Regions from separate parts of the Homo sapiens genome. Here region 2 is linked to region 1. Evidence: fine-mapped expression QTL. Tissue or cell type: whole blood. Region 1 holds a variant in brackets; the other region holds the start of a gene. All regions are shown on one strand. Distances are from middle to middle.

Region 1 (2,760 bases):
GCCAACCGGTTGGGACTAGGTGTGGTGGCTCACACTTGTAATCCCAGCACTTTGGGAGGCCAAGGTGGGAAGACTGTTTTGACCCCCGGAGTGTAAGACCGGTCTGGGCAATATAGCAAGATCCCATCTAAAAAAAAAAAAAAAAAAAAGGTACAATAAATCATGATATGATAACCACCTTCACAGTTCTTTGGGTTCACTCTAGTATTTTTCATCATTTATTGCTCAGCACAGTACCTGCCTGACACAGTAGCCACTGAACCAATCCATTATGAACAGTAAATATTAAAACAATACCTCTACTTTTTCATTAGCTGGAGTCTTCTTTCCTATTGGTACCAGCTGTGGGATTTCGTCTTCGGATTCATTTGTTGCTTTAACTTGGGCTTTTCCTCTGCCACGTTTTTTCTTCCCATGCTCTGGGGTCTGTTCCTTCTTTGATTCAGGTTTCTTCACTGTAGTATCACCACTTTCAGGTGCCACATCATCTTTACTAAGAACTGATGCAGTCTTCCTAGCCTGCTGCCTCTTCTTCTTCCTCTCCTTTTGTTTTTCAAAATTTCTTTCTCTTCGTTTTCTCCTTGCCTCCTACCAAAAAACACCATACAAACATTTTAGCAGGAACAGTTCTGTTGGTTAACAAACGGCATAGATGTACCACGTGCAGTTTTGATTATCCATAAGCCCCTAAATGGACCTCGATCTATACAGAGAACAAACTCCCTAACCAGCACTGGAACCTCAACCGCAGTTTTTGACTCACAGCCAAACATGCATTTTATGCAGTAAATTATATACCGGCATTTCAGAATCTGACTATCTAAAGTATACAGTTAAGAGACTTTTGTGAAACACAGTATGGTTTAGAGTGTAAAGAATAATACTCAGCTGGGCGCGGTGGCTCACGCCTGTAATCACAGCACTCAGGGAGGCTGAGGCAGGAGGATCACTTGAGGTCAGGACTTCGAGATCAGCCTGGTAAACATGGTGAAACCCCATCTCTATTAAAACCACAAAAATTAGCTGGGCATGGTGATACGTGCCTGTAGTTCCAACTACTCAGGAGGGTGAGGCACAGAGAATCATTTGAACCTGGAAGGCGGGGGGTTGTAGTGAGCT[G/C]AGATCATGCCACTGCACTTCAGCCTGGGCGACAGAGTGAAACTCTGTCTCAAAAACAAAATTAAAAATTCATTGGACACAATTAACATGGCTAAAGAGAGAAACACTAGGAGATCAGTCTAACAAATAGCAAAAAATTAAATTTTCTCTCCTTCCGAAAGCTTCTTTTGCTAGAGTACGAGTAATACTGAAAACCTACAAACCAAGCTCAGGAGGTATCTGTGAGCATAACCTCCGACATCCAAATACGTGCACATTAGGTGAACTGGTGTGTTGAAGTTATCCCAGTCCCAGTCCCAACGAATGTAGGTGTATGAGTTTGTCCTGTGATGAAACAGCGCCTTTTCTAGGGTTGGCTCTTGCCTGTTACCCTTTTCCCTGAGCTATCAGGATTAAACTCCAGCCACCTACAACCGTGGATGGGAATAACTGGGTAAATAATTATGTCAATTCCTTTTATTACTGTTTCAAATGTATATATAGCTCACATTTATTTCAATGTTTAATATTTTAAATGTTTTGGTCTTTATTTAGAAGTATGGTGATGTTTCTATGACCGGAAATATGTGGTAGGAACTTAACTCAGGCCCCCTCAAAAGCCAGTTAATCCAGGCCAGGCATAGTAGCTCATGCCTGTAATCCCAGCACTTTGGGAGCCCAAGGCAGGCGGATCGCTTGAGCTCAAGAATTCAAGATCAGCCTGGGAAACAGGGCGACCATGTGTGTACAAAAAATAATTTAAAAATTAGCTGGGCATGGTGAAGCATGCCTGCAGTGCCAGCTACTCGGGAGGCTGAAACAGGATTGCTTGAGCTCAGGAGGTCAAGGCTGCCGTGAGCCTTGATCACGTCACTGTGCTCCAGCCTGGGGGACAGAGTGAGACCCTGTCTCTCTAAAAAAACCCAGCAAGCACTGGATCTAACAAAAATAAAAAAAAAATCCAATTTATCAATAAATACAAGATATTTCTATCTTAATGCGCATTACTAACATCAACTACCTCATGTAAAGTGACAAAAGCATACCCATTTTACCTCATGTAAAGTGACAAAAGCACAACCACCACAAAACCAGAAGATAACTGAAAAGTCGGGCAGCGATGATGGTCTACTTCTCTCCTAGTGACTGAATTTACACCCTTCATTATTCATTCTGTAAGTATTTAAAATTCTACTAACTTTTTTCTTCTTATTAAGCAAAGATCTTTTGGTGGCTTCATCCCAATTGCTGACAAACGAGGAAAAGATGGGAAGTGCAGCCGATTTCTCAGTTTTCACAAACAGGAGTTTCACGCTCTCCCACTTCTGAAACAAAGAAAAGAGTAACATCGTCTACATATACTTTGTTTCTTTTAAATGAACAATCAATTGATGCACCTGTAATACTGTACCTCTGGCAATTTTTCTGAAAGTCCTTTGGTGACAGCAACAATGTTTTCAATGATGTGCTCAATTTGCATTCCAACGTGACCAATACGTATAGCACTGAAATTTAATATAGTATTAGACAAGATTTTAAAAAACCATTTTTCAAAATAAACCAGGCAGGTATATGAGAAATATAAATACATAATCCTCAAGTTTTTCTTTTTCTTTTAAAAAGGTAGAAATATTAATCCCGGGCAACATGGCAAAATCCTGT
Region 2 (2,500 bases), 120 kb after region 1:
AGACAGAGTGAGACTCTGTCAAAAAAAAAAAAAAAGGCAAATTCAAGTGATCCATTTATGTAAACAGAAAAATGCACTATATAAATGTATCTATCTAGAATTCAGGGATCGGTGAAACAAAAGACATCGCATCGGCAGGTCTGTTTGCAACTTCTGGGATACACCAGGTGTTAGCGGTGATGACTTCTGGATGCTTGGACTGTGGATTTTTAAAATGGTTTTATCTGCTCATCTGTATTTCTAAATTTTCAACAATGGAACATAGATTATTGTATTATTATTATAATACCCCAAACCTATCTTCCTCTCAGCCCTCTTTCCACGAGCTCTTACCCTAAATGTCTCTTTTTCTGTCAGTGGCATTGTGCGTCTTCCTTAGTGCATCACCTCTGATCTTCCTGTAGAATTTTTTTTTTTTTTGAGATAGAGTCTTGCTTTGTCACCCAGGCTGGAGCGCAGTGGCCTGATCTTGGCTTACTGCAAACTCCGCCTCCTGGGTTCAAGCACGTCTCCCTGCCTCAGCCTCCTGAGTAGCTGGGATCATAGGTGCCTGCCACCATGCCTGACTAATTTTTGTATTTTTAGTAGAGACGGGGTTTCACCATGTTGGCCAGGCTGTTCTGGAACTCCTGACCTCAAGTGATCCACCTGCCTCGGCCTCCCAAAGTGCTGGGATTACAGGAGAGCGCCACGGCGCCCAGCTTACACCAGACTACTTTTTAAAATGTTTTTGTAAAGTCAGGGTTTCGCCATGTTGCCCAGGCTGATTTTGAACTCCTGGGCTCAAGCAATCCTTTTGCCTTTTGACTCCCAAAGTCCTGGGATTACAGGTGTGAACCCCTGCAGCTGGCCTCAATGTTAAGATCTTAAGGGGCACAGCACAGACCTTGTCTTGTCTATCTCCCTGGCACCTCTCACAGAGTACAGCTTATTAACAGATGTTCCAGAAACTGTTACTGAACATTCGGCTTGATGCTGTGGGCTTGTCTGCATCTTGCAACTGTCACCTGGCTGAGAAATTTCTTCTATAAATAAGCAGTTTCTGTTTCAGATGTGATATGCCCTGATATTTACACCCTGTCTCTTACCCCATCCAAGACTCAAACTTAGAAACTTGAATTAGATGTGGTATTCAAATCCTTAGCTGCCGCGAAGACACAGACAGCCCCCGTAAGAACCCACGAAGCAGGCGAAGTTCATTGTTCTCAACATTCTAGCTGCTCTTGCTGCATTTGCTCTGGAATTCTTGTAGAGATATTACTTGTCCTTCCAGGCTGTTCTTTCTGTAGCTCCCTTGTTTTCTTTTTGTGATCATGTTGCAGATGGCTGGGCAGTGCTCCCAAAATGAATATTTTGACAGTTTGTTGCATGCTTGCATACCTTGTCAACTTCGATGTTCTTCTAATACTCCTCCTCTAACATGTCAGCGTTATTGTAATGCAAGTAAGTAATATTGCTTGAACGATTATTCATTGGTGTGAACTATTCTGTCTATATGGACTGCTTATTCAGAGAATCAACATAATGGGCATGATGGTGAGTTTTCTTGAATCAAAAAGAGAAAGGAAGCAAGGCAGTGATTTTAATGTTTATGGAAACAAAGTAATTATTTGGAACTGAACTTGATATGATTCAGCACTATTAGCAACATAGATTTTTTTTAAAAATCAGCTCTTCTAATTAAGTGATATTTAGAATTTAAAAGTCAATGTTCATTAATTAAGGTGATTGAATGGAAATAATCCATACTTGATTATTTTGCTATCAAAACAATCCATAATTCATTATTTTAGCAAAATAATCAAGTATGACAGCCGGGTGCGGTGGATGGCTCACACCTGTAATCCCAGCACTTTGGGAGGCCGAGGTGGGTGAATCACCTGAGGTCGGCAGTTTGAGGCCAGCCTGGCCAACCTGGTGAAACCCTGTCTCTACTAAAAATACAAAAAATTAGCTGGGCATGGTGGCACAGGTCTGTAATCCCAGCTACTCGGGAGGCTGAGGCAGGAGAATTGTTTGAACTTGGGAGGTGGAGGTTGCAGTGAGCCGAGATCGCGCCACTGCACTCTAGCCTGGGCAACAGAGCAAGACTTTGTCTCAAAATAAATAAATAAATAATAACAATAAAGTATGTGAATATTATGTTATCAGCTCATTATCTGTCTGATGTTCTTTTCATAAAGGTGTGACCAATTCAGTGAAAGGAACGAATGCGATTCTCTGGACCTGTTTGGGACTGAGCTTAATAATTTCTTTGGCAGTTTTCGTGCTAATGTTTTTGCTAAGGAAGATAAACTCTGAACCATTAAAGGACGAGTTTAAAAACACAGGTTGGTTTGATGGTGAATCTTTGAAATCTATTTCCAGGGGATGGCTATTGTGAGTTTCAGTTCCTTTTCTTTTTTTAGCGTTGACTATTTCACTTCGTTACAGCCCTTTCGAATGTGTTAGAACATTGTTACATTAAATGAACTTGGTAGAGGTGAGCCATCTTCATTCT

Evidence for each region. PIP is the estimated chance that this variant, and not a neighbour inherited with it, causes the effect.
Region 2: TNFRSF17 starts here. The variant in region 1 is fine-mapped to the expression of TNFRSF17 in whole blood (TOPMed, PIP above 0.99).

What each region holds. Positions count from the first base shown.
Region 1 is chr16:11,839,398-11,842,157 of GRCh38, forward strand. It overlaps RSL1D1 (ribosomal L1 domain containing 1), which reads right to left. Exons shown (of 9, transcript NM_015659.3): 6 at 2,510-2,603; 7 at 2,298-2,423; 8 at 298-588. Among named protein-coding and RNA genes, the nearest start is that of RSL1D1, 11 kb to the right of the region's middle. The variant G/C (reference allele first, on the strand shown) is at 1,120.
Region 2 is chr16:11,964,012-11,966,511 of GRCh38, forward strand. TNFRSF17 (TNF receptor superfamily member 17) reads left to right here and starts at 1,199. Exons shown (of 3, transcript NM_001192.3): 1 at 1,199-1,443; 2 at 2,184-2,330. The coding sequence starts at 1,314. It also overlaps a transcript of NPIPB2 not described here. RefSeq lists enhancers at 747-866, 987-1,426.